4 linked regions of the Homo sapiens genome follow. The protein of the gene in region 1 interacts with the protein of each later gene in a biochemical or structural test. Each region holds a gene or a part of one and is shown in the gene's direction. Other genes may lie near its edges. The genes, in order: MAP3K7, USP29, IKBKB and TAB1.

Region 1 (7,023 bases):
CGTTTTTCCGTCTTGTTTCAGCTCTCATGCTGTAAGCAGGTGTCCTTTTTTGTGCTGTTCAGAGCCCTTTTTCATTTTTGTGATTTTTGTTGGTAATTTTGCTACTTAAAATGGCCCTCAAGCATAGTACTGCCTAAGTACAAGAAGGCTATGATGTATCTTAACAGACAATATACATATGTTAAATTATCTTCATTCAGGCATGAGTTACAGAAATGTTGACTATGAGTTCAATGGTAATAAATCAACAGTATATATGAATAAGGTGTCTTTAAGCAGAAATACGCATGAAACAAGGCTATATATTGATCAGTTGACAAAAACATGGTGACCAGAGGCACACAGGAACCTACCCCTGTATTTTCCTTAGGAGCAGTGATTCAGTGTTCACTAATTCAGTGTTCTCAGAAACTTTATAGAACATAAATACCAGGAATAATGAGAATTAACTGTGCTTTTGTATTGGTTTCCTAGCAATTAAAAATTGAGAGCCCTAAAGTTTAAATGAGGATGCCTTAAAAAGAATGCAAATAGCTGGGCGCGGTGGCTCAGGCCTGTAATCTCAGCACTTTGGGAGGCTGAGGTGGGCGGATCATGAGGTCAGGAGATCGAGACCATCCTGTATAACACGGTGAAACCCCATCTCTACTAAAACTACAAAAAATTCGCCGGGCGTGGTGGCGGGCGCCCGTAGTCCCAGCTACTCGGGAGGCTGAGGCAGGAGAATGGTGTGAACCCGGGAGGCGGAGCATGCAGTGAGCCGAGATCGTGCCACTGCACTCCAGCCTGGGTGACAGAGCAAGACTCCATCTCAAAAAAAAAAAAGAATGCAAGTAATTGGACAGAAATAAGATACTAAGAATTACAAATAAATGTCAAGCTTATATGTTTACCTTCTTTTATACCTCCATATGTCACTGAAGTTTTAAAAGAGTTGTCTGTAAATTATATGCTAGGTTTCTGTATAAAAACATCAAATTATCTTTTAAATGAAAGAAGTTGAACTGAAGGTATGTGATTTGTATGTTAGGAAGTGTAAATGCCCATAAAATTCAGATACATTCAGTTAATCAGACTCTGGTTATAGCTTATTTCTTTCAGTTTTGATGACTTTAAAGGGTTTTCTGTTTGTTTTTAGCCACCCCAGAGGAAGAGAAATTGCAATGCAACTAGTCACCTGAGTGGAGCTCTTTTGCCCTAAAATTCAATTTAGTAATAAATGAATAATCAGGTGTTATATTACACAAGATTAAATAATGCCTCCTGTTTCATATACAGAATGTATACATTTGACATTGTTTTAAAATTATTTACTTATTTAATATACCTTTATGTGAGTTAAAATGACCCAATGTTACTGTATGTGGAGAGCAAAAAGATTTGTTTATACAAAAGATTAATTTTATTGCTCTAGACAACCCTTAATTGTCTAGAGCAACAAAATGCAGACTGTTAGGCTGTGTAAGTTTCTTCATTTCTGAAAGATGTCAGTCAACCTGTAGCCCAAATTAGACTGTAGCATGGTTGTAGTGCTATATTACAGTGTACTGCTTAGCATGTAAAGCTATAGCTATAATAATTGTTCATTCTTACAGTGAGTTGAGTGTTTGTTTGTTTTTGGGAGATTATGACGGGTGCTTATTGTGCTGGCTGATTCAACCACCTACTTAGTTTGTAAATTTTGCTGTGTAACTCAGGTTATCCATAATTTTCGTTACTTACAACGTAATGTTTAAGTTTATAAATTAAGAATTTCCCTTCACCATATATTGAGGAAAAAACTGTAACACTAAATTAGAAAGTTCTTCTGCTTTGATAGCAGAGTAGTGCTGTCTGTCAGAGTGGGAAGAAAATTTAAGATTAAAATGTAACAGAAAGGAGGCCAGGCACAATGGCTCATGCCTGTGATCCCAGCGCCTCGGGAGGCCAGAGCAGGAGGATCAGTTGAGCCCAGGAGTTTGAGACCAGCCTGGGCAACATGGCAAGACCCCATCTCTACAAAAAATTTAAAAAATTAACCAGTTGTGCCAGCGCATGCCTGTAGCCCCAGCTACTCAGGAGGATCACTTGAGCCCAAGAGTTTGAGGCTACACTGAGCTCCAGCCTGGATGAGAGTGTGAGATCCTGTCTCAGAATAAAATAATAATAAACAACATAAAGGAATGTACAGATGTTTCATACTCTGCCCCAGAGAAAGTATCAGTCTAAATACATAAAAGTCAAGTCCTGTGCCTCTTGATGAAAAAACTGCCTCTTGATGAAAAAAGATAGAAAATAACTGAGTTTCTGAAGTAGTTTTTTAGTGTATTGTTGATACTTAATTCATTTAAAAATGTACTTGTTGAAAAGACAAAGTACTTCAGAAAGAGTAGTTTCTTAGTTCTACATGTGACAGCCTCATTTTTATCCCTGATACCCATTCTCAAAATTTAAGCCATTGTTTCTGTAAGTCATGTGGAAAAATAGTCTTTAGGTTATATACTACCTTTTTTTTTTCTAGGTAGTAATTACAGTGAAAAATGTGACGTCTTCAGCTGGGGTATTATTCTTTGGGAAGTGATAACGCGTCGGAAACCCTTTGATGAGATTGGTGGCCCAGCTTTCCGAATCATGTGGGCTGTTCATAATGGTTCGTAAAAAGAAATTTTTCTTAAAAGTACTTTTTGTGTTTTCTACTTGGAAGACTACTCCTGTCCCCTTCCCTAAAGAATATCATTTATCTCTAACATTAAAATGTACAATTCTTTGTTAAGAGACTGCTTTGCTATTATCAGACTCTGCCCTGTCCCTGCCCCAGAGTCCAGCAGAGCAGGATTGAGAGTAGTCCTGGTCTACACATGCGGCTGAGGATGTTCACTGGCTCCGCTGATTAGGGAAAGGCCATCAGTACGCAACCTAGACAGTTGGCTCTCTCTTAGGGAGAAGCATCAGGCTGGATCATGGAAAAAATAAAAAAATACATACATAAAATCTCTGACATGGTTAATATAACTGGAGAGTTATAGCCCTTTTCTCCTGAAGAAGCAAGGGCCTCATCAAGGAGAAGAAGCAAAGAATAATAATGCTTCACATATTTTTCCTGTTTATATTCTCACCCACCCTTAGAAGGTGAGTACTGTTGCCTCATTTTACAGATTAGGAAACTGAGGCCTAGAGAGGTTAAATAACTTGCTTAAGGTCACAAGATTAGTAAGTGGTAGAGCTGGGATTCAAATCCAGATGCTTCTGACTTGAATGCTCATATCTTAAGTCATATTGACTTATGGACTCAATGTCCTTGCATCTGTCCTGTTTCTTTTATAGTTCTGGTAATGTTGTTTTTAACCACATATGATGTTAGAATGCATCCTCTTCATTAGTAAAGTTACTTTACATTTGCTTGGGAAAATAGCTTTTCATGAAGGAAAATTACTTACCTTCTTAATTTTAGCGCCACTCTTAGTTATTTCATTTCTATGCCTTGTTTATAATCATGTGACTAATGGCCATTTTTTACATTATTCCACAAGTCTAAAAACAAATGTCTGCCTAATTATTTAGGTCATTCATAGATTTATCAAACAGTACCATCATCTGAGTAATCTTAGCTGTTTTTACCAGTTTCCTATACTGCCTTTAATATTACTACCATTAGTATCATTGTGGAGACTGTTCAGCATTGACCAGGACAGCTTGCTTGCTTGCTTTCTATCAGTTGTCAGTAAATAATTGAACGTCCGTGAAGTAAAGAGTAAAAGAACTAACTTGTTAATTGATAAAATTACAAAGCACTTTTATTACTCCAAATTACAGATCTTAAACTACAAGATCTATAAAATAAATACCACTTTGGAAATACGTACAAAGAGTTTGCATCATTCTTTGGGTAAATACATTCTTCCCCCCTTCCTCTCATTTTCAATTGTAGGTACTCGACCACCACTGATAAAAAATTTACCTAAGCCCATTGAGAGCCTGATGACTCGTTGTTGGTCTAAAGATCCTTCCCAGCGCCCTTCAATGGAGGAAATTGTGAAAATAATGACTCACTTGATGCGGGTATAATCCTTCTTTTGAGGGGCTTTGGATTTAGGGGAATTTAATATGTGCTGAGTTTTAATGGAATTTTAAAAGGGATGTTATTACTATATTCTGCTTTATATATTGCTATGTTTTCTAAGTGAGAATGGGCATTTATTACTCATAGTCAGAAGAGGAAACATTTCGAGAGGGAAAATCTAGTTCTTTATCACTGGAAAGATGGCTAGACTAGGTTTCTAGACTTGCTTTTTTCTTTTTGCTTACATTAGTGGACAAGTATGTTTGTCTCTGGGCCTGTTGCCTCATTTGTAATGTGGGAGAAACTGAAATAGATAGTCTCTAAAGCCATCACAGGACTTGGATATATTAATATTATGACTTCAATACATGATAAACTAAATTTTACATTTTTCTGATACCAATTTTCATCAAGCATTTAGTCATTTATGCAAGGCAATAGGTTGCATTCTCAGACACATTTATTTGAGTGACTTTTACTATTTGGCCTATTTTCAGGTTTTTATATCCCAGTAAAAAGTTAAACTTTCTTCTATTTAGAAGAACCCTTTTAAATGATTATCAAATTTTCCTAGTCTGTGAATCAAGCGCCTTTAGAATTATTTGGAATATTTTACGCCTCTGGTTTTTGGTACATTAACAAAAACTGTGAAGTGGTATCTTGGCTTTAAAAAGTTCAAATATCTATGAAAGTGCCTGAATTTTGAAACAGTTTGTTCAGTAGAAGAATCTTACAATCTCCTTAAATATAGACTAAGTAATTTCCTAAATGGTAAAACGTTGTTTATTCAATCTATTGAAAATTTCTTACGCAAAGCAGCTTGAACTAATCTACTAAAAGTTTACCATCGTATTTGGATACCAGTCATATATAGAAGCCTAGGCCTTAAAGGTGTGTGCATAAGAAAACAACTTAGTCTCTGTAGTCAGATTACTTAAAACTTTAGGATATATAAGTTATTGCAGTTGTAATTTTGCTTCTCTGTTCCTTGTCTAATTTGAGGAGAATACGTTTCCTTTTTTTCTCTAAATTCTAACATTTTTGTCCAGCAGATACTTTGAGTATTATGCCTCCAGTTTGTAGAAAGACATTCATAATCTATCCTCTTAATATTTAAAATGTTCTAACAATTATTCTATGGTATACTAGTCTCAGTCTTCAGACTAACAGTCACTGGAAGTTTACATCACTACTGTAAGAACATGAGTATGTTTTACATAATTATGAGAAATGATACTATTTTATTTCATATGTTTCTCTAGAGAAATATTTGCTGTTTTCTTCAAGACTATCTAGACTCCAATGTAAGCTAGATTCTTAGGTAGGTGCATGGCATTGATCAAAGTTGAAATCCAAGAGTACATTATTGTAATCTTTGTAAAATAAAAAACTTAGGCACCTACAAATTTAGTATATAACTTAGGGAAAATAAAACATTAATCAGGATTTAATTTGTATTAAGGAAATTTTAAGCTGTGGTTTACTTTTTTATATATAGTACTTTCCAGGAGCAGATGAGCCATTACAGTATCCTTGTCAGTATTCAGATGAAGGACAGAGCAACTCTGCCACCAGTACAGGTAAATGGATAGATTGGAAGAGTATTGACTTGATTTTTCTTTCATCTCTATTCCCATGAAATTATAATCAAGAAGTAATGAATAATGTCCCCATTTGCATTTTAATTCCTTCATTTCATATGATTGACTGCAATTTGAGTTTACAGGTGCGTCATTCTTCATGTAGGTACCCTGATTAAAGAGTTATTGAAGACCTGCTTCCAAGTCTTAGAATTCCTACATAATTATGAATAAAAAGATGGCATATTGTATTACAGTGAATGTCATTCTTAACTTGAAAAATCACTTTTACATGCATACTACTAGATCAAGTAGTATTAGAAATTATTGTAAATGTATTTAAACATTTCTTCATCACGAACACCCTAGTTTTTGTTCTCTTCTACAGAGGCTCTGATTTAAGAAGCTATGTTAAAAGTTCCTTAGTTTTCCGAAATGTGAAGTAGTAGTGGGACATGTAATTTGTGGTCATCAAAAAGATAGTAGAAATAATACTGTAACTTAGAAATATTGTACTTCTCAAAATATAGTGGCATTATAAGCATTTCATTATTAATTGAAACTTAAAGATATGTGTGTGTCTATATGCACATGTATTTACCCTGCATTTATTGAAAAATACTTTTACTGATCTATTTCTCCCACCTCAAGAATAGTTTTATTTATTTTAAGATGGTTACTGCTTGGCTAGTTATTCTCAAATTCCAGTTTTACTGAAAATATTTTGAGTTGCTCTGAATTCTAAAATGTACTTCTCTAAAATTCTATCATTTGTGTCTCCCACGTCCTCTAAACTCTCTCTTCATTTCCTTACTGTGACCTTGAATTTTTTGAGCCTCCCACCTTTTCACTGGTCCTCAGTCCTCTTAGGTCCTTTTTTCTTTCTCCCTCCACTTAATTCCAATCAACTATTATAATTCTTTTGGGAATAATTTTCATCTTTCTAGCCTCTCTCTCAAGCTTGCTTGGCTAAACCACAAGCCTAATGAAAGCTGACACTCGGCTTACTCCTTGCCTGTACCAATGCAGCTGAGTGTGGCTGGAGATAGCACAGGTTTACTATCCTCACGTGCATGTTTAGTGCTATTGGACAGTTGTACTGTATTGTAGTTCATCTCTTTCCTCCTATATGTCTTAATTTTATACTGTAGCCTCTCCTCAGACTTCAAACACCTCCTCGCCACTCCTCACTCTCAGCTGATCTTGTTTGCTCTTTCTCTGAGAAAATTGGAGTAATCGGAAGACAGCTTCCACAACATCTGTGCCCATCTACTCTGCTTTCTTCTGTTACTCTGGCTAAACTATCCATACTTCTGGCCAAAGGTGTACCTTTCTGCCTGTGCATTATATCCCATCTGCTCCTCTGAGCAATTCTCCCCTGTCTCTTGCATCATCAGTTTTAGC
Region 2 (7,824 bases), on another chromosome or scaffold:
TCTAAGCAATCCTCTAAGTCTACCTCTACTGATCCAGCAAGTCTACCTCTAAGAATGTATCCCAGGATATACTTGTGAAGATGGAAAAGGACTGAGTATTATGATTAATTACTGAAGAATGGTTTCTAATGGTAAAAGATTGGAAACAACCTAAATATTCACCAAGAAACATCTGGCTAAATCTACGGTCTATACACACAGGGACATTGTGCAGTTATCATACCACACTTTGTATGTATACTATGATGTCAAAGTCACTCACGGTTAATGTTCTTTTTCAAAAGAACATTAGAGGTAGATTTTCTGGACCAGTGTGGATCTGAAACTTTAACAGATACTCCCAGATTTCCCACTAGAGATAAATTGGCAGTCTTAAAAATGGGTTCACGGTCTTTCGTGCCTTTGGCTTTAGAAGACACGGTGGCCAGCCTACTGTTCTTTGGATCATCCCACTCATTTCTGTTGGGTAATTTCTCTAATTTTTCCTCCTCTGGCTTTCTTTTAGCCCCTTTATTTATCTAAGTTAAAATTTCAAATATTTTTCCAAATTACCAAAAATAATTCCATTAAGAATTTGATTGAGACTGGGCGCAGTGGCTCACACCTGTAATCCCAGCACTTTGGGAGACTGACGCAGGTGAATCACCTGAGGTCAGGAGTTTGAGACCAGCCTGGCCAACATCGTGAAACCCCATCTCTACTAAAAATACAAAAGTTAGATGGGTGTGGTGGTGCACACCTGTAATCCCAACTACTTGGGAGGCTGAGGCAGGAGAATTGCCTGAACCAGGGAGGCGGGGTTGCAGTGAGCCCAGATCCCACCAATGTACTCCAGCCTGGGTGACAGAGTGAGACTCTGTCTCACGAAAAAAAAAAAAAAAGAATTTGATTGAGTGAAAATACCTGGGCAGGAGAGACACTCCATTCTTTGTGCCTTTGATGCTCTATTGTACCTTTTTCTTTTCTTTTCAAGACATGGGGTCTCACTATGTTTCTCAGGCCGGACTTGAACTTCTGGGCTCAAGCCATCCTCCCACCTCAGACTTCTAAGTATCTGGGACTGCAGGTGCAAGCCACTGCACCCAACTCTTAATGTACCTTTTACACACATTTGTGTCACAACACCTGTGCCACACCCTTAACAGTTTTGCAGATGCACATCCCAACGTTTTTCAGTTTTGAGAAAAATCACTTTTATTTGGTAAAAATCACACATGCTTATGAAAATAATTACACATTGCACCAAAGTGACAAAGATGAAAGTAATCACTCCAGATCCTAGTTCCGAGAGGTTACTATCTTTAACAGTAGGCAAATAATAAAATCCCAGGTTTTTTGTTTTTTCTTTTGAGACGGAGTCTCGCTCTGTCACCCAGACTGGAGTGCAGTGGCACGATCTCGGCTCACTGCAAGCTCCGCCTCCCGGGTTCAGGCGATTCTCCTGCCTCAGCCTCCCCAGTAGCTGGGACTACAGGCGCCCGCCACCATGCCTGGGTAATTTTTTGTATTTTTAATAGAGACGGGGTTTCACCGTGTTAGCCAGGATGGTCTCAACCTCCTGACCTCATGATCCGCCCACCTCAGCCTCCAAAGTGCTGGGATTACAGGCGTGAGACACGGCGCCTGGCCAATCCCAGGTATTTTTTCTATGCAAATATACAGAAGGCTGGATGGATAAACAGATAATACATGTAAATACTTAAATTAGAATGTGGCCCAGGAGAACATGAACTCCATGAGGTCAGGGATTTTTGTTGGCTAGGTTCACTTCCACATCTCCTGTACCTAGAGTAAGGTTTCTCAGCCTGGGCACTACTGACATTTGGGCTGGATAACTCTTTTTGTAGGAGATTGGGGTGGGTGGGGAGCGTGCCATCCACTGCACTGTAGGATGCTGAGTAGTGTCCTTGGCCTCTACCCTGGCAGAAGCATCCATGTGACAACCAAAACTGTCTCCAGACATTGCCAATTGTCCCCTGGGGGCAAAACTGCCACCAAGTGAGAATCACTAACCTAGAAAAGTGAGTGTTCAATACACAATAAGTGCTTGTTAAATGTATTACACAACCGGAAAATGATGTAAGGGCAAGTTAAAAAGTAATGCAAACTGGCCGGGCACAGTGGCTCATGCCTGTAATTCCAACACTTTGGAGGCCGAGGTGGGCAGATCACCTTGAGGTTGGGAGTTCAAGGCCAGCCTGGCTAACATAGTGAAACCCCGTCTCTACTAAAAATACAAAAATTAGCCAGGCGTGGTGGTGGGCACCTGTAATCCCAGCTACTAGAGAGGCTGAGGCAGGAGAATCAATTGAACCCAGGAGGTGGAGGTTGCAGTGAGCCTAGATCCCCGCCATTGCAAGTCAGCCTGGGCAACAAGAGCAAAACTCCATCTCAAAAACAAACAAAAAAAAAAGTAATGCAAACTCATCTGGGTTTTGGTCATGTCCTGCATCTCCTGAGGAAGGGCAGAGGGCTGAGGAGCAGTCCTTGGGAAGCACAAACATGTGAGAATCCAGGTTGGCTCTATGCCCTACCCAGTAACGTAGCCCCAAATCTCTGCCTTAGCTGACATGGGGGCACACTGAAGTCTTGTGAAGGGTAGAAGGGACCATGTTGAGGCAGGGACAACCTTGCCTACAGGTGATTCAGGTAATCCCACAAGTTCAGCCACAGAAAACAAGCATGACCATGTGCAAAGACTTCCACGAGACCACTTGTCACAGGGTTGTTTTAATTCAAGCAACATCAACATACACCAGAAACTTGTGAAGAAAATTATGGCACATTTGTATAACTTCAGTGTCAAGAAGCCAGCGGTATTTTGCAGATAATGCAAGGTCTGTAGATCGAAAATTAAGTTGGGTGTCTTCCTTTAGTGTACAAACACCTTGGATGTTTGAGGAAATCCAAAGACAAGGTTCTAGGCATTTTATACGTGTTAACTCATGTATTATGTTAATTCTCACAATAATCCTTTGGAACTAGTACGATCACCATCCCTGCCTTATTGAGGAGGAAATGGGGTACAGAGAGCTTAAGCAACTTGCCAGTGTCATGCAGCAGGGAAGCGCTGGAGGCAGGGCTCCAACCCACGCAGCCTTGCTGCATGTTTGTGGAATGAACACAGGACTCAGGCACACAACCATCTGGCTGAGGCTCCATGAGCAGCCAGGAGCCTGGTCCCAATGCAGTCTCCTTATAGGCACAAATGGGGTGCCCCTTGAGACAGGAATAATAAAGGTGGTCACAGGAGAACGGAAAATTCCAGGCAACAGTTTCACATGACTAGCAAAGGAAACCGTTGAAATCGCTGCGTAAGCTAGGGGCGGATAAGACTCTGAAAACCAGGGTGTGGGCCAAGCTGGCTAAAGCCGACTGGACCCAACATGGTGCTGGATTCGACCCGTTTCACCTAGGACCTCTCATTATGTGCTCATTAACATACTAAGTCACACACCCACTGTGACAGCTCTGGGGAACACCCGTATTTAGTATAAAAATGTGTGGCACCGCAGTACCAAGAAATGTTTACCTTTTTCCAAGAATCTTCATGAATATTCCACCCCTTGGTTAAATAAATATTTAAAGGTAGCTCCAAACCCCGCTGGGCGTGATGCTCTGTGGTATGCCTGCACTTTTCTTTCTTCAGTACGTACTTATTCCCGTCGCAATGAATCTCCACACTTTGTTCTGCTCATCCATGAATTCCTTCTCACGACAGTGTCAAGAGCCTGGACACCAGTCAGGGTCGAGGCCTCACCAGCATCTTGGGGCCTCACTGGGCACAGACGCGTGAGCGCCCGGCCTGCAGACCTGACTCTGGCAGCCGCTCAGGCCCTCAGAGGGAGAGATGGAAGCTGGCAGGACGCAGTTGCTACCGCGCGGACCCGGCCCCCGACCAGCCTTGGCCCCTCGCGCGCCGGGACAGGGCCACAAATGACTGCACCTGGGCTTCGCTGGCCCAGGCACCACGCGACTCTAAGCGCGCCCAAAGCGACCCTCTGCGCAAACTACCCCCGGGGACGACGTCACCCGTGAGGTCCCGCGGCGCCTCCTCCTAAAGCTCGGCTGGGAAACCGTCCGCTTCCCCAAGACTTGGGGGCTTGTGGCCGAGTTGTTTTAGTTTTCCTGTAGGATTCACGGGTGGCTGAGGCAAACACGCTTGAAGGCCTAAGACTTTTAAGTCTCTTCCGCACCCTCTCTTCTGTCTCTTCCACCTGGAGGATGACCGCTTTTTTGGGGGTTTTGTTGTTGTTTTGAGACGGAGTCTCGCTCTGTCGCCCAGGCTGGATTGTAGTGGCGCCATCTCCGCTCACTGCAACCTCCGCCTCCCGGGTTCAAGCGATTCTCCTGCCTCAGCCTCCCGAGTAGCTGGGATTACAGGCGCCCACCACCATGCCCGGCTGATTTTTGTATTTTTAGTAGAGACGGGGTTTCGCCACGTTGGTCAGGCTAATATCAAACTCCTGACCTCAGGTGATCCGCCCTCCTCGGCCTCCCAAAGTGCTGGGATGACAGGCGTGAGCCACCGCGCCCGGCCGGGATGACTGTTATTAACAATTCCCGGCGTGGTTTCTAGCACCAGCCCACCTACCACACCCCACCTCGCTTGAGGCTGAATGGGTAACAGGATGAACCCGCCCCTGGGCTGGTTTTCTCTGAACCCTAACTCCTGCCGTTACGCCCCACCAGCTCTAGGCCAGGAACTCTATGTGCCCCGGCCACGCTAGAGCCCGTACCTAGACCCGTAGGTCGGGAGGCCTGCGCCCGGCACTGCGCAGACGCAGCGTGCTGTGCCCAGAACTCTTCTGTTCCCAGGAGAATCAGGGGAGTCGGCGCCGGAAGGGGCGGGTCCGAGCTGAGATTTCCAGAGCCATGGGAGCCGGAAGTCCAAGGAACTGTACCTCCATCATGACGACTCCGGTTACGTAAAAACATTCAAACAGAAAATGCTGGCCAGGCTCATGCCTGTAATCCCAGCACTTTGGGAGGCCGAGGCGGGAGGATCGCTTGTGCCCAGGAGTTGGAGACCAGCCTGGGCAACATAGTGAGACCCTCCCCCCACCCATCTCTACAAAAAATTTTAAAATTAGCTAGCTGAGATCATGCCACTGCACTCCAGCCTGGACAACAAAGTGAGACTATGTCTCAAAAAAATTTAAAAATTACCCACGCCTGTAGTGTCAGATAGTCAGGAGGCAGAGGTTGGAGGATGACTTGAGCCTTGGGGATCGAGGGTGTAGTGAGGTATGATCGCACCACTGCACTCCAGCCTGGGCAACAGAGCAAGACCCTGTCTCAAAAACTATATAAAAGAAAAAAGGGCTGGGTCGGTGGCTCACGCCTGTCATGCCAGCACTTTGGGAGGCCGAGGCGGGTAGATCACCTGAGGTCAGGAGTTTGAGACCAGCCTGACCAACAAGGTGAAACCCTGTCTCTACTAAAAATACAAAAATTAGCTGGCCATGATGGTGGGTGCCTGTAATCCCAGCTACTGGGGAGGCTGAGGCAGGAGAATCACTTGAACCCCAGAGGTGGAGGTTGCAGTGAGCCGAGATCACACCACTGCACTCCAGCCTGGGCGACAGAGCGAGAGACTCCGTCTCAAAAAAAAAAAAAAAAAAAAAAAAACAGAAAAAAGGCCGGGCACGGTGGCTCACTCCTGTAATTCCAGAACTTTGGGAGGCCAAGGCGGGCGGATCAGGAGTTCGAGACTGCCTGGGCAACATAGCGAAACCCCGTCTCTACTAAAAATACAAAAAATTAGCCAGGCGTGGTGGCGGGCTCCTGTAATCCCAGCTACTCAGGAGGCTTAGGCAGGAGAATCACTTGAACCCAGGAAGCAGAGGCTGCAGTGAGCCGAGATCACGCCATTAAACTCCAGCCTCGGTGACAGAGTGAGACTCCATCCCCGCTCCGCTCCCTCACCTCCCGCCAAAAAAAAAAAAGAAAATGCACTGCAATAGAAAAATAAAAGTACTACACTTTGGTCAAACAGGGTAACTACTAGAACGTAAAATGATCTTTTTGAAACTATCCACATTTGTTACACGTGTTGAAAATGTAGGATATATATGTTATATATATACTTATATATGTTATATATACTTATATATGTTATATACTTATATATGTTATGTACTTATATATTATATATACTTATATATGTTATATCTACTTATGTTATATACTTATATATGTTATATATACTTATATATGTTATACATACTTATATGTTATATATACTTATGTTATATACTTATATATGTTATATATACTTATACATGTTATACATACTTATATGTTATATATACTTATATATGTTATATATACTTATATATGCTATATATACTTATATATGCTATGTATACTTATATATGTTATATATATACTTATATGTATGTTATATATACTTATATATGTTATATATGCTTATATGTATGTTATATATGCTTATATGTTATATATACTTACATATGTTATATATACTTACATATGTTATATGTACTTACATATGTTATATATATACATATATGTTATATATATATAATTATATATATATAAAACAAAAAGCACGGTTACTACAAAGAAAACAGGTAAACATTAAGTGGAGTAAAAGTATATCCTGTTATATAAGGGACTTGAACATGTCTGGGCATGGTGGCTCAAGCCTGTAATCCCAGCACTTTGGGAGGCTGAGGCGGGTGGATTACTGGAGGTCAGGAGTTCGAGACCTGGGCAACATAGCAAGACCTTGTCTCTATTAAAAAATAGATAGATAGATAGATAGATAGATACATAGAACATCAAAAGAGGGAGAGAGAAAGCAGACAGATGTGGCAAAATATACACAATTGGTAAATTTGGGTGAAGGGAATATAAGTTATTTCTACTAATCTTGCAATTCTTATGTATATTTGCAATGATTTCTAAATAAAAGTTTTTAATTACCAATTGAAATAAAGTAAAATAAGTCACTATCTAGCCTTTTCTAGACAAATATTTTAAACTCTTACACAGAGATAAGTTAATCAAGAAACGTATTTCCTGGAAAAACCCGTGATATGGGTGGAGCCACCTGGGAATAAAAGGTCGGAACATCATAATCACTGTCAGACTCAACTTCCATCATTCTCCTCCAGGCGCTATGGAGTCTAATCCAGGCACTTTGGAAGGCTGAGGCTGGAGGATCGATTGAGGCCAGGAGTTTGGGACCACCCTGGGCAACATAGCAAGATCTCATTTCTGAAAAAAGAATTATCATCCACTCACCCAGAACAGCTCTCCAAACTGTAAGTTTCATTCAAGGTTTGCTTGTTTGGGTGATGGGATGTGTGTGTGTGTGTGTGTGTGTGTGTGTGTGTGTGTGTGTGTATGTGTGTGTGAGTGTTGGAAGGAGGGTCTGTCTAAACTTAATGCCCTAAAGATATTGTCAGATATTGTGATGAGGGGAATTTCATCTTCTACCCTTTATGAGGTTGAATTGTAAATTCGAAAATCCTGATTCTGGGTTTTTATTTTGAGGGGATAGTTTTCTGTTTTCTGTGGCATTGGATATTGGCATTTTCAGAAAAGAGCATGCATCCAAAATGAAAATGATGAAGCCTACCTGTCTTTTGAACTCAGCTCAGGGAAAAGCTGATGATCTCTAATTTTTGTGATTCCTCCTTTCATTAAATTTAAGGTCCAGTGAGGGTGAAGTTTCCCTAAAGAGGCAATAATTTATCAGCAGCAACAGGATGAAATGGAGGGGCTTTTCTTCACACTCTATATATTATGTTAGGATCTCTCAGGAAACTGAGGACACATTAATTATAATCATGG
Region 3 (7,404 bases), on another chromosome or scaffold:
AAAATGGGCAACCAGTAGCCCTCGGGGGCTGCTCTGTCTAAGGAGTAGCCGTTCTGTTATTCCTTTACCTTCTTTTTTTGTTTGTTTTTTTTTTGTTTTTTTTTTTTTTGAGGTGGAGTCTCGCTCTGTCGCCCAGGTTGGAGTACACTGGCGCGATCTTGGCTCACTGCAAGATCCATCCACCTCCTGGGTTCACACCATTCTCCTGCCTCAGCCTCCTGAGTAGCTGGGACTACAGGCGCCCGCCACCATGCCTGGCTAATTTTTTGTATTTTTAGTAGAGACGGGGTTTCACCGTGTTAGCCAGGATGGTCTCCATCTCCTGACCTCGTGATCCACCTGCCTCCCAAAGTGCTGGGATTACAGGAGTGAGCCACCATGCCTGGCCCCTACTTTCTTAATAAACTTGCTTTCACTTTACTGACTCGCCCTGAATTCTTTCTTGCGCGAGATCCAAGAACCCTCTCTTGGGGTCTGGATCGGGACCCCTTTCCTATAACGGTACTGTACTGTGGTACTAATTACTGCAGAACAAATCCGTGTGTGATTTTATATTGCCTGGCCTTTGTCTGTCCTTACTTCATGGCTCCCTGTGGGTCTTAAAAACCCAGTAAGATTCTAAGTGCCTCTGATGAGATCTCATTCCATTGCTTGGATCCCCTGGGTCAGTAATGCCCTGGGCTGAGCTAGGCACTCTGGCTGGTCAGTATTTCTTGATTTCCCTATAGCACAGCTAAAAAGCACACTCAGCCTCAAAGCAGGAAGAAAAGGGGACATTTTTCTGCTGAATCTGAAAATATCTTTTGTAAACAGTCTGCTCATATCTCCAGAGCAGGACAGAAACCAGATGCAGGCAGAGATAGCTAAACATGTCTTATCTGGATAGAAAATTGAGCTTAAGATAATAAATATCTTGGAATATGATAAAACCCAGAGGCCCCTTCCTGGTCCATGATTAATTGAAGAAAAAAAAAGCCTAGTAATACGTGACCTTATCAGAGAGATTTATGTTCAGTTGAAAGCCAAGTTATTTTGAGCTGAGCAAAATGAGGATTCAAATTACAGGAGCGCAGAGTAAACTTTTGGCATATTAGCGGACATCTTGGTAAGTTTCTCAGGACAGTGTTTTTCAGAGATGACAGGATTAAAGAGAAACCTTTTATGACATTGTACTGGAAATGGACTCTCCACAGTGCCCAGCACATATAGGTGCTCAATAATTTTTTTTTTTTTTTTTTTTTTTAGATGGAGTTTTGCTCTTGTCGCCCAGGCTGGAGTGCAATGGCACGATCTCGGCTCACTGCAACCTCTGCCTCCTGGGTTCAAGCGATTCTCCTGCCTCAGCCTCCCGAGTAGCTTGGATTACAGGCACGTGCCACCACGCCCAGCTAATTTTTTTGTATTTTTAGTAGAGATGGCGTTTCACCATATTGGCCAGGATGGTCTTGATCTCCTGACCTCGTGATCTGCCCGCCTTGGCCTCCCAAAGTGCTGGCATTACAGGTGTAAGCCACTGTGCCTGGCCTAATTTTTGTATTTTTAGTAGAGACGGGGTTTCACTATGTTGGCCAGGCTAGTCTTGAACTCCTGACCTCAAGTGATCTGCCTGCCTCGGCCTTCCAAAGTGCTGAGATTACAGGGGTGAGCCACCACACCCGGCCAAATTTTTTTTTTTGAGATGGAGTCTCGCTCTGTCGCCCACGTTGTAGTGCACTGGTGCGATCTCCACTCACTGCAACCTCCAGCTCCTGGGTTCAAGTGATTCTCCTGCCTCAGCCTCCCAAGTAGCTGGGATTATAGGCACCTGCCACCACGCCCAGCTAATTTTTGTATTTTTCGTAGAGACGTGGTTTCACCATGTTGGCCAGGCTGGTCTCAAATTCCTGACCTCAAGTGATCTGCCTACCTTGGCCTCCCAAAGTGCTGGGATTACAGGCATGAGCCACCTCACCTGGCCAATAAATATTTTATTTAAAAAATTTACTTATTAAGCAAACACTTATATTGCACTTAGACAATGCAGTCACTATTCTACGTGTGTTACAACTATTTACTCATGTTCCTGTTGCTTCTGGCCTTGAGGCTGAGCTTGCCATTTAGCTGGGAGTAATCAAGAAATACCAGGCCAGAAGCGGTGGCTCACACCTGTAATCCCAGCACTTAGGGAGGCCAAGGCGGGAGGATTGCTTTGAGGCCAGGAGTTCAAGCCAAGTCTGAGCAACATAGTGAGACCCCCATGTCAACAAAATAAAATTTAAAAATTAGCTGGTCATGGTGGCACGTGCCTGTAATCTCAGCTAGTGGGGAGGCTGAGGCGGGAGGACCCCTTGAACCCAGGAGGTCAAGACTGCAGTGAGCCGTGATCCTGCCACTATACTCCAAAGTGGGCGATAGAGAAAGGCCCTGTCAAGAAAGAAAAAAGAAAGAAAAGGAAAGAAAAGGAAAGGAAAGGAAGAAAGGAAAGGAAAGGAAGAAAGAAAGGAAAGAAAAAAAAGAAAGCTAGCAGCTGGGAAGGGAAGGGGAGGGGAAGCGAGGGGAGGGGAGGGGAGGGGAGGGGAGGGGAGGAAAAGGAAAGGAAAGAAGGAAAGAAGGAAGGAAGGAGGAGAGATAGGAAGGAAGGAAAAGAAGGAAAAGAAAGAAACCAAGTAGCCGGGAAGGGAAGGGAAGGGGAGGGGAGTGGAGGGGAGGGGAGGAGAGGGGAGGGGGAAGGAAGGAAGGAAAAGAGAGAGAGAGAGAAAGAAAAAGAGAAAGGAGAGGGAAGAGGGGAGAGGGGAGAAACCGAGCAGCCAGCGTGCCTAGCACAGCCCTGGACACCATTGACCCCTATGTTTGGGTTGAGATCTGTCCCTGAGTTAACTTCAACCCCAGGGCTGTCAGGCACTGCTGCTATCAATACCTCATTTGTCCCTCACAACAACTCTGGGGTGGCCTCCTTTCTATGACTTTCTATGAGCCCGCCTGTCCCCCTGCTATTACAATGAAGCAGATGAAACTGCTGATCTTTGTTACTGATGTTTTGGCTGTTTTCAATTTCCAAAAAATGACAATTAAATGCAATTCAACCTAATATTGCCTAAATTTTAAAAGAGGAAATAGGTTCTCACAGTGTTTAAGTAACCAGCCCCCGTGCCTCAGAGGTAGTCAACAGCAGTATCTGGATTCAAAATCCAGTTTGCCTCCTTCTGAACTTCTTAACATGCTACTTTTAGCCACGGATTAAGAACCCGGGAACCAGTTGCTAGGGTTTGAGTATCAGCTCATCTACGTAGCAGCCATGTACCTTGGAAATAATAATAATGCAGACCAGGTGCAGTGGCTCACAGCCTGTAATCTCAACACTTTGGGAAGCCCAGGCGGGTGGATCCCTTGAGCCCAGGAGTTGGAGACCAGCCTGGGCAACACAGTGAGTGAGACCCCGCCACCAGGTATGGCGGCCGCGCACCTGTAGTCAGGAGAATCACTTGAGCCCAGGAGTTGGAGGTTGCACTGAGCTGTGATCACACCACTGCACTCCAGCCTGGGTGACAGAGCGAGATAATAATAATAATGATGATGATGATGCAGTATTTTCCAATTTACAGGGTTGCCCTGAGGATTGAATAAGGAAATCTAAGTACAGAGATTTAGAACAGAGCCCTGCACTGTGTAAGCACTCTATAGATGTGAGCTATTATTATCATCTTCAGGTTCCTTTGGTAGTTTTTTTCTGCTTGAATAAAATATAGCAACACACACACACACCTCCTTTGTCCACTAATGTAATCCCATAAAACGGAGAAACTCAGCAGTGAGGACATTCTGATTCCAAGCAGGAAGGAGATGAACGATGAACCTCAGGCTGAGCGCCTCACGGTTTCCTCATGTCACCGGGGCTGGGGGTGCAGTTTGGCTTCACACTGCTAGGTCTTTTCTTGTTTTTAAGGGGGCAGGGGCTGTCACCTCTGAGGAGTCAGCTGTGATTGATCCTTCTCCACACCCAGCCAAGCACCCCCCAGACAGGGGAGCGCCCGCAGTAGGGCGGTAGGCAAGGGCAGTTCTAGCCAACAGTCCCTAAATCATCCCAGCGGGGGCGCGGGAAATTCCACCGAGGTGAAAGCCTAGGGGGCCGGGTGAAGAAATCCCCATACCCGGGCCCAGAAACCGCTCCAGGTGGAAGTAACTTGTCTAAAGAGAACAGGGTGTAACGGGGGTCATTTCAGGGCTGTTCTTTTAAATCGGTGAGCACGGTCTGTCTACTTTCCCTCAGTTGTCTAGAGACCACACGCCACCCCCGCCCCGGGGGAGTCGCCCGGTCGAGGGTCCCGGGACAGGCGCAGCACTCGCAGCATCCGGACCTGGTCTGCCTCGCGCCGGGAGCGGCCTCTTTAAGAGCGGCCGCGGCCAACGTGCTCCGTGACGTCAGAGCAGGAAGTGTTTGAGGAAGTCGCGCCGCGCTGCCCGCGTTAAGATTCCCGCATTTTAATGTTTTCAGGGGGGTGTCATAGCCCCGGGTTTGGCCGCCCCAGCCCCGCCTTCCCCGCCCCGGGGAGCCCGCCCCCTGCCCCGCGTCCCTGCCGACAGGTGAGTCCCCCTCGTGGGTGCGGCCCGGGTGCCACCTGCAGGCCCCGCCGCCCCGCTGCCTGCAAGGCCCGGAAGACCCCTCTGTGCCGCTGGGAAGTCGCAGCTTGCGGACTGGGGAGCGTTTCACTTGTGCGGGTTGGAGTTCGGGAAGCCGGGAGAAACAGCTCTCCCTGGGGTGGCTTCTTGGGGGTGGGTGGCTTTGAGGGGAACCTGCGATTTATGGGAACATTGTAAAGAAACACGTGACCTCGGCGATGCTCAGAAGTAGGTTCTGCCCCTGCCACCTCGGGCAGAAGGCGGGCAGGCCCGGGCGCCCCTGGTGGAGTCAGCTGGGGATCCCCTCGCTAGGGCAAGGGCGTGGGCATCGCCTCCCTCGGTGACTTTCTTCCTTGCCTGATGCCACAGCAACCGGATGGGGGAGGGTGAGAGGGACAAAAGTTTGCCACAAAGTTTGGACCAACCAAACACATTGGTTTCTTTACAAAATAAAAAACCAGTTGTATTTTTCTTCTCTCCCATTCAAGAGCAGTGGTATCTCTTGCCTTCTCCATCCCTTTGAGCTCCATTTTTTTCTTAATCCTAACCTTTTTTCCCCATCCCAAATTGCTTATAGAGTTAGCACGACATCAGTATGAGCTGGTCACCTTCCCTGACAACGCAGACATGTGGGGCCTGGGAAATGAAAGAGCGCCTTGGGACAGGGGGATTTGGAAATGTCATCCGATGGCACAATCAGGTAGGCCCTCTGTGCAGCTTGGGGAGGGGCGGGGAGCCAGGCCCCCTCCTCACTGCCTCCACTTTCTCTGATCCTGCTGGGCCAAGGGCTCACCTTTGGCTTTGGTCATCTTGGGACAGTGAATAGGGGGACTGGGAAGAGGGCTTCAGGACTTCTGAGCTGACTCCAGGTTAGTGGTCTCCATGCTTTATTGACTATGTCACCTAAATAAATAGTAAAATAAAGTTAAGCTCTTAGTCTCTATTATATATATATGGTAACAGTAGAATATCATGTACTAATATATACTGATATTATATGTTATAAAACATATAGAAATAGGAAAATTTAAAGGATGAGACTAAATAAATAATTTAAAATATTTTAATTCCTTGAGGCCAGTAGTTCAAGAGCAGCCTGGGCAACATAGCAAGACCTCGTCTCTACAAAAAAGGTTTAAAAATTAGGCAGCCAGCTGGGCGTGGTGGCTTATACCTGTAATCTCAGCACTTTGGGAGGCTGAGGCAGGCGGATCACGCAGTCAGGAGATGGAGACCATCCTGGCTAACACTGTGAAACCCCATCTCTACTAAAAATACAAAGAATTAGCCAGGCTTGGTGGCACGTGCCTGTAGTCCCCAGCTACTTGGGAGGCTGAGGCAGGAGAATCGCTTGAACCCATGAGGCGGAGGTTGCAGTGAGCCAAGATTGCGCTACTGCACTCCAGCCTGGGTAACAGAGTGAGACTCCGTCTCAAAAAAAAAAAAAAAAAAAAAACCTTAGGCAGCCTTGGTGCGTACCTGTAGTCCCACTACATTGGAGGCTGATGTGGGAGGATTGCTTGTCCAGGAGTTTGAGGCTGTAGTGAGCTATGATTGTGCCACTGCACTCTAGCCTAGGTGACAGAGTGAGACCTTGTTTCAAAACCATTTTTTAAAAATTATTTTAAATGTCGGGTGCAGTGGCTTACACCTGTAATCCCAGCACTTTGGGAGGCCGAGGCAGGAGGATCACTTGAGGTCAGGAGTTTGAGACCAGCCTGGCCAACATGGTGAAACCTCATCTCTACTAAAAATACAAAATTAGCTGGTGTGGTGGTGCATGCCTGTAACTTCAGCTACTCAGGAGGCTGAGGCAGGAGAATCGCTTGAACCCAGGAGGCAGAGGTTGCAGTGAGCCGAGATAGTGTCACTGCATTCCAGCCTGGGTGACAGAATGAGACCCTGTCTCAAAAAATATATATATATATATATATTTAAAATATTTGCTAATTATGATGTCTTCCCAGTATTGCTTGCGATACTGCACGGCAAAAAATAAGCAGATCCACATGAAAGTGAGAATTCATTTAGAATGATGATGAAAATCCATATTTCAAATAATTAACATTTTTTTAAATTTTGTAGAGATGGGGTCTTGCTATGTTGCCCAGGCTTGTCTCAAACTCTCATCCTCAAGCAGTCTTCCCGTCTTTGCCTCCCAAAATGTTTGGATTACAGGCCTGAGCCATGGGACCTGGCCTCAGCTGAGGTTTTTTTTTTATTTTTTGTAGTGATGGTGGTCTCACAATGTTGTCCAGGCTCGTCTAGAACTCTTGGCCTCAAGTGATCTTCCTGCCTTGGCCTCTCAAAGTGCTGGGATTACAGCCATGAGTCATTGAACCTGGCCTGTTTTTATTTTTAATTGACACATAATAATTGTACATATTTATGGGGTACAGTGTGATATTTTGATACATAATGTGTAATGATCAAATCGGGGTAATTGGCGTGTTCATCACTTGAAACACGTATCCTTTTTGTTGGAAACAGTCAAAATTCTTTCTTCTGGCTATTTTGAAATATACAATATTTTTTTTTTTCCGGAGACAGAGTCTCGCACTGTTGCCCAGGCTGGAGTGCAGTGGTGTGATCTTGGCTCACTGCAACCTCCGCCTCTTGAGTTCAAGTGATTCTCCTGCCTCAGCCTCCTGAGTACCTGGAATTACAGGTGTGCACCACCATGCCAGCTAATTTTTGTATTTTTAGTAGAAATGGGGTTTCACCATGTAGGCCATGCCGGTCTCAAACTCCTGACCTCAGGTGATCTGCCCACCTCAGCCACCCAAAGTGCTTGGATTACAAGCGTGA
Region 4 (7,023 bases), on another chromosome or scaffold:
TGTCCCCCTAGGCCTTCGATGTGGTGGAGAGGAGCTTCCTGGAGTCCATTGACGACGCCTTGGCTGAGAAGGCAAGCCTCCAGTCGCAATTGCCAGAGGTAATTTCCCCAGCCGACACCCAGGGGAGTCAAGTCCAGGCCCAGCTTTGCAAGGAGCATGGACTCATCTACTTTCTTGACATTACTGGGCCAGAGCAACAGGCGTTAGGGAGCAGTTCCTGATGGGTGACACTGGTGTGTGGCCACAGGTGAGGGACCTCGCTGCTCTGCTGTGGGCAGCTGCATGCTAAAGCTCAGCAGTGTCTGGGCAGTGGTGGACATGAGGAAGGGCTTTTCCCAGTCCTTCGTCCTGAATGGGTCCCCGCCCTTGTCAACCACCTGCTCACATCGCCTACTGCCACCTGCAGCGCTTACCTCTGTGCTGTGAGTTCGGTCATCTCCAGCTTTCTGGAAGAACCTTAGCCTGGAGCTGTAGCGAAGGCTTCATCTTGGCTGTGCCATGGACCATCTGTCTGTCTGTCCCCCGGGCCCTCGGATCTTTGCTCTTAAGAGCAAAGGGAGGCCGGGCATGGTGGCTCACGCCTGTAATCCCAGCACCTTGGGAGGCCGAGGCGGGCGGATCACAAGGTCAGGAGATCAAGACCATCCTGGCTAACATGGTGAAACCCCGTCTCTACTAAAAATACAAAAAATTAGCTGGGCGTGGTGGTGGGCGCCTTGTAGTCCCAGCTACTCTCGAGGCTGAAGCAGGAGAATGGTGTGAACCTGGGAGGCGGAGCTTGTAGTGAGCCGAGATCATGCCACTGCACTGTAGCCTGGGGGACACAGCGAGACTCCATCTCAAAAAAAAAAAAAAGAGTAAAGGGAGTGGAGAGGGCTAGGAAGATGGTCCAGAGTTCTGTCCTGCCCTGACCCTCTGTTGATGGTTGTAGGGAGTCCCTCAGCACCAGCTGCCTCCTCAGTATCAGAAGATCCTTGAGAGACTCAAGACGTTAGAGAGGGAAATTTCGGGAGGGGCCATGGCCGTTGTGGCGGTCCTTCTCAACAACAAGCTCTACGTCGCCAATGTCGGTGAGCCCCCTCCTGTCCCAGGGCAGGGAGGACTGGGGAGAGGTCAGCCACAGGGGTCGGTGCATTATTTGACAATCTGCTTTCCAGACACTTCACGCACTTTAAACCCAGGGTCTCCTGAGACCGTTGGGTATGTCCCTCTCCACAGTGACGCCTCAGTCCCAACTGGAAGGGAGAAAGGACGGGATGGGAGACAGGTGTCCTGGCCTTTAGTCCCTATTCTGCTTCTTAACTCATTCTGGACGAGTCGTATCCCATTCTGGGTGGCCTTGGGGGCCGCTGCTTCTGGAAGAGGTTACCTGGCCATGAATAACCAACCAGTATCCCCATGAACAGCTGCGAGATGGGGCTAGGTGACAGGGACATTGGGGTTTGTGAGAAGACCAGACAGGTGCAGGTTTCAGTAGAAAGGACTCTGTAGAGACCCTTCTGATGATGCTGCCTTTTTTTAATACTCCAGTGGAAAATTTTCCACAATATAGAACAATAGAGTGACTGATATTTAATGAACATTCATGCGCCCATCCCCAATCCCAGCAGTTATCAACTGTGGCCAGCCTTCTTTGTCCCCACGTTCTCTATTTTGAAGCAAATGCCAGACACTGTATCATGTTATCTGTAAATATTTCAGTCTGTATCTCTAGAGAAGAGGTCTGTTTTATTAAGATCATAATCCTATGATTACACTGAAAAAGTTAAACCCAATTCTTTCGTATCACCAGCTGTCCCTAACTGGTGACTCACCCCGTTGGTCTGAGCCTGTTTTGCCCATTTCAGGTATTTCCATGTGTGAAATGCCTGCCTTTTCCCTCTCTGCCTTCCCGGTATGCCCTATTTCTCTCTGTGTGTAGTCTTTGCTTAGCTGTTCACATTCTGCCACAGGTACAAACCGTGCACTTTTATGCAAATCGACAGTGGATGGGTTGCAGGTGACACAGCTGAACGTGGACCACACCACAGAGAACGAGGATGAGCTCTTCCGTCTTTCGCAGCTGGGTGAGTGGGGAGAGTGGGAGCGGAAGCTGATCCCCATGGGCTCACCCTTCGCCTGCCTTTGGTGGTGGGGTAGAGAGGCGTGTGGTAGAGGGGCTGTGATCTTGGGCTCCCCAGCCAGCCTGCCTGGGGTTCATTCCCAGCACTGCCGCTTACTGGTTGGTGATTGGAACTTAAGTTTTCTGTGCCTCAGATCCCCCGCTGTGTAATGAGGATAATAGTAACCTACCTCGGGATGCTAGGAGGATTCAGTTAGTGCATGTGAAATGCTTCCTGGAGTGCCTGGCACACAGAAGACACTTACTGTTATTGGTGGAGACTGAAAGAGGCCAAAGAAGTCCAGGGAGCCCAGCTGCTGCTGAGCTGCTCCTTCCCTTCCCAGTGAGCTCCAGGCAGATGTGGGGCACACGGGATGGGCAGGGAGACGGCAGGCAAGCTGCTCCGTGCCAGGTGGTGCCTGGAGGACGGGCTCTGAGTGAGGTGTGTCGTGATGGGCGTGGGGACTGAGGACACCAGGGACTTTGGGTCAGCTGCTCTCCCAGGTGCCCTGGTGTTGTCTTCATTTCCTATTCAGTGGGTCCTTATTGCCTTCTTCCCATGACTGTGTCTCTGTCCCCTTCTTTTTGTTCCTCTTTGTGAACAAGAAGCAGGATTGTTGCACTGTTTCCCTCCGTAGGCTTGGATGCTGGAAAGATCAAGCAGGTGGGGATCATCTGTGGGCAGGAGAGCACCCGGCGGATCGGGGATTACAAGGTTAAATATGGCTACACGGACATTGACCTTCTCAGGTAGGTGCCAGCCCAGCTGTCCCCTGTGCTTGAAAGAACAGAAGGTCCTAGGGAGGCCAAGATGGGAGGATTGATTGTGCTGGGAGGTCGAGGCTGCAGTGAGCCGTGATCATGCCACTGCACTCCAGCCTGGGCAACAGAGCAAGACCCTGTCTCAAAAAAAAAAAAAGGTCCAGAAGGCCTGGGGCAGACGCAGACTGTAGGCCCCAGTGACACATGTGCAGTCAAAGTAGTTCAGAGCCCAGGCAAACTCTTTCTTCCTCCCAGAGAGGTTGGTTTGGGGCAGGTTAGGCCCAGCAGGCCAGGAGTTGGGTACTGTAGAAACAAGGGGTGGAGTTGAGCTGGGCCAAAGCTGAGGGCAGCAACTAGTGCCACAAGGGAGGCAGGCGAAGCCAGAGTTGGCATGGGATGGACAGACCAGGCCTGTTGGTCGGTGCTGCCCATGGCTGCAGCAGAGGTGTGAGATGAATTGTGTATTTCCCTCTGAGGACACCTCCTCTGGACATCACCCCAGCGCTCATGGCAGCAGAATGGGCAGTCATCATCACACGGCCAAGCCCGTGCAGAGCTCTGGATGTACCTTCTTTTATGCATTCCCTACTCAGGCCCCCTGAGGCAGTCACTGCCATCACCCCAGAGGCATTTTCATAAGAGGAAACTGAGGCATGGAGACATCAGGCAGCCCACCCTGGTCATGGGGCTTGAACACAGGCAGCCTGAATTTGGAATATGTGTCCTTAACCGTCAGGTAACCTGTATGTGAAGTGTTGGTTGGGGAGATAGGCGCGTCCACTTGCCTGATGCCAATCATGGCATTTAATGTCATGGCCAAGGCTGTTCCCAAAGCCAGAGTTCCCATCAACAGAGGCCTCATGGCCTAGAAAGTGCATGTTAGAACTCCTTGCCCTCACGCGATCTAGGCAACTGAGTGTCGAATATTTGTCCCTAATTTGTGGGGTCCTGTTTCCTTTATTGGAAAGGACATCCATAGTTTAAAACACTTCAGACAGTGCTGGGGTCTATACAGGGAAAGGAAGTCTTCCTACACCACACTCTAGGACTCGCTGCCTCCCCAGAGGCTGCTAGTTTCTTGTGTATCCTGTTCCAAAATCTGGCCACATGCACATATACACACACGGTGTCTCTGTGTGTGTGTGTGTGTGTGTGTGTGTGTGTGTGTGTGTGTGTTTGTCCTGGGGGCCAAGGAGCCTGCATCCTTTTCGGAACACCCAGGTGCTGGGGTGTCTCTCTCTGTGTGTGTGTGTGTGTGTGTGTGTGTGTGTGTGTGTGTGTGTGTTTGTCCTGGGGGCCAAGGAGCCTGCATCCTTTTCGGAACACCCAGGTGCTGGTGTGTCCTGCCCCTCCCAGGTGCTGGTGTGTCCTGCCCCTCCCAGGTGCTGGTGTGTCCTGCCCCTCCCAGGTGCTGGTGTGTCCTGCTCCTCCTTCTTTTCTTTTTTTTTAAACCCTAAGGTGTAATTGGCATATGCAAAGCTGTGCCTATTTCATGCATACAACTTGATGAGTTTGGAGATATGTTTACACACCCCTCACTGCTATCATTAAAGGTGCTCATCTCTTCATTCTGCTCACCTGCAGTTAGGATGGCGTCATTCTGTGTAATAACCGCTCCCAGGGCCCAGCCCTGGCTGACGGACCCTCAGGAAGTTCTTAGACTCCGCTCTTCTGGATGGTGTTGCCAGCACCTCCTCATGTACTTACCTCCATGTGCACACACATGTGTTGGCATGTAATGACTCTGACCCCAGTCACTAAAGGATCCCTGTACACATGGAGAGTATCTGGGGTCTCAGCCATCTGTTTTGGAAAAGCCCAAATAATAGCAAGAGGCTTGGGCTCCCAGGGATAATCCCTCCCTCTTGCTGTCCCACACCCTGCCCTGCCACCACCGGACCCTGTGAACAGGACGTATGGAACAGGCCAGAATCGGGCATTCAACCTTTGCCATCCTGACCTCAGCTGCCTGCCAGTTTTTATGGCCTTCCAAGCTTTATTTTAGCAGCTGCTGTAAGACGATGGGTCTATTTTTCTGACCTTCTCTTTCTCTCTTTTCTTTTCCTCTTGTCAGGTTGTGTGTTTTATTTTACATTCTGGGCATAGATTCCTCCCCTCAGCAGAATCAGCATCCACCTGCGGGCTGTTCCAAGCAAAGCTCTTCCTTCCACTCTCTCCCCATAGCGCTGCCAAGTCCAAACCAATCATCGCAGAGCCAGAAATCCATGGGGCACAGCCGCTGGATGGGGTGACGGGCTTCTTGGTGCTGATGTCGGAGGGGTTGTACAAGGCCCTAGAGGCAGCCCATGGGCCTGGGCAGGCCAACCAGGTGAGTTGGGCCCAGCCACGCCCATGGCCGGAGAGCGTGGCTGGCCTGCATGGTGATGTGCTCACCCTGCCTTCTAGCACTGTGATTCTCGGAGGCCGTCACCAGACATCTCTGGGTTCAAAGCTGGGGGAAGGAGAATCCCAGAGCTCTGAAAACACCCATCCCACCCAAAAACTTGACTCATTTTAGGCTTGAAGCAGTGCCAGTCCTCAGGGCCTGAGCAAGGTCTGAAGGGAAGAGGGGGAGATGGATGTGAATTGCTATGGGCACGGCATTACTCTGAGACGGCCAGGAAGGGGCCAGGGCCAGGAGGAGAGCACAGAAAGAGATGTGCAGAGTCCTTCCCACACCCATCACTTCCTGCCAAGGGCCTGACGGCTTTACTGCCCTCCCTGAGTGGCAGACAATTTATAGTTTGCTTCTCATTTCTTTTTTTTTTTTTTTTTTTTTTTTTTGAGACAGCGTCTCCCTCTGTCACGCAGGCTAGAGTACAGTGGCATGATCTCGGCTCACTGCAATCTCCGCCTCCCGGGTTCAAGCAGTTCTCTGCCTCAGCCTCCCAAGTAGCTGGGATTACAGGTGTCTGCCACCACGCCCAGCTAATTTTTGTATTTTTAGTAGAGACAGGGTTTCACCAGGCTGGTCTCCAACTCCTGACCTTGTGATCCACCCACCTCAGCCTCCCAAAGTGCTGGGATTACAGGCGTGAGCCACCGCGCCCGGCAGTTCACTTCTCATTTCTACAGTGAGGATGGTAACATCTGCCTTTGTGAGATCGCAGTGAGGTTAGGCGTGGTAGACACAGGCCCTCAGCCAAGAGTTGCTTATTTTTCTTATACCTTGGAGTCACCAAAGTGTGACTTCAAGACAGTCACGTTAGGGATGGTCTCAAAGGAAAACTGTCTTTCCCTGACCTCCTTGGATTGCTGACTGGCTAAGATAAGTTCAGTTTGTGTTCCTCCTCCTTTCTGTGATTCTTGTAGGAAGATAACCTTTTCTGCTTTGACTTTTTTTTTTTTTTTTTTAAGACTTGCTGTGTCACCCAGACTGGAGTGCAGTGGCGTGATCACGGGTCACTGCACCCTCAACCTTCTGGGTTCAACCGATCCTCCAGCCTTAGCCTCCTGAGTAGCTGGAACTATAGGTGTGTGCCACCACACCTGGCTAATTTTGGTTGTTTTCTTTGTTTTGTTTTTTTGGTAGAGACAGGGTCTCACTGTATCGCCCAGGTTAATCTCAAACTCCTGGTCTCAAGTGATCCTCCTACCTTGGCCTCCCAAGATGCTGGGATTGTAGGCATGAGCCACTGTGCCCAGCCTGCTTTGTCCTTTTTAATTAAAAATCATGTATTGGCCGGGCACAGTGGCTCATGCTTGTAATCCCAGGACTTTGGGAAGCCGAGGCAGGCGGATCACTTGAGGTCAGGAGTTCGAGACCAGCCTGGCCAACATGGTGAAGCCCCGTCTCTACTAAAAATACAAAAATTAGCCGGGTGTGGTGGCAGGCACCTGTAATCCCAGCTACTCAGGAGGCTGAGGCAGGAGAATCGCTTGAACCCGGGAGGTGGAGGTTGCAGTGAGCCAAGATCGCACCACTGCACTCCAGCCTGAGCAACAGAGCAAGACTCTGTCTCAATCAATCAATCAATATCATGAGGAAAAAGTCTTCTTTAAAATTTGAAAATTAATTTTTATTTCAGTAGCTTTTGAGGTACCAGTATTTTTTTGTTATAGGGATGAATTATGTAGTGGTGAATTCTGAGATCTTAGTAAACCAGTTATTCCAGTAGTGTACATTGTAAGTAATGTATAGTGTTTTATAGTGTACATTG

What was found.
Region 2: the proteins of MAP3K7 (region 1) and USP29 form a complex in vitro, tested with the Homo sapiens proteins (2 studies listed by BioGRID).
Region 3: of the proteins of MAP3K7 (region 1) and IKBKB, one has a biochemical effect on the other in vitro, tested with the Homo sapiens proteins (5 studies listed by BioGRID).
Region 4: of the proteins of MAP3K7 (region 1) and TAB1, one has a biochemical effect on the other in vitro, tested with the Homo sapiens proteins (4 studies listed by BioGRID and IntAct).

What each region holds. Positions count from the first base shown.
Region 1 is NC_000006.12:90,549,064-90,556,086, reverse strand, and holds part of MAP3K7 (mitogen-activated protein kinase kinase kinase 7), read left to right. Parts: intron 1-2,500; coding exon 2,501-2,629; intron 2,630-3,907; coding exon 3,908-4,038; intron 4,039-5,537; coding exon 5,538-5,619; intron 5,620-7,023. UniProt on the Homo sapiens protein: Serine/threonine kinase which acts as an essential component of the MAP kinase signal transduction pathway. Plays an important role in the cascades of cellular responses evoked by changes in the environment.
Region 2 is NC_000019.10:57,115,183-57,123,006, forward strand, and holds the start of USP29 (ubiquitin carboxyl-terminal hydrolase 29), read left to right. Parts: upstream 1-4,802; 5' UTR 4,803-5,047; intron 5,048-7,142; 5' UTR 7,143-7,292; intron 7,293-7,824.
Region 3 is NC_000008.11:42,266,910-42,274,313, forward strand, and holds the start of IKBKB (inhibitor of nuclear factor kappa-B kinase subunit beta), read left to right. Parts: upstream 1-4,392; 5' UTR 4,393-4,560; intron 4,561-4,648; exon of another isoform or gene 4,649-4,814; coding exon of another isoform or gene 4,815-4,824; intron 4,825-5,173; coding exon of another isoform or gene 5,174-5,191; coding exon 5,192-5,296; intron 5,297-7,404.
Region 4 is NC_000022.11:39,416,780-39,423,802, forward strand, and holds part of TAB1 (TGF-beta-activated kinase 1 and MAP3K7-binding protein 1), read left to right. Parts: intron 1-11; coding exon 12-98; intron 99-931; coding exon 932-1,070; intron 1,071-1,952; coding exon 1,953-2,066; intron 2,067-2,739; coding exon 2,740-2,851; intron 2,852-5,047; coding exon 5,048-5,192; intron 5,193-7,023. UniProt on the Homo sapiens protein: Key adapter protein that plays an essential role in JNK and NF-kappa-B activation and proinflammatory cytokines production in response to stimulation with TLRs and cytokines.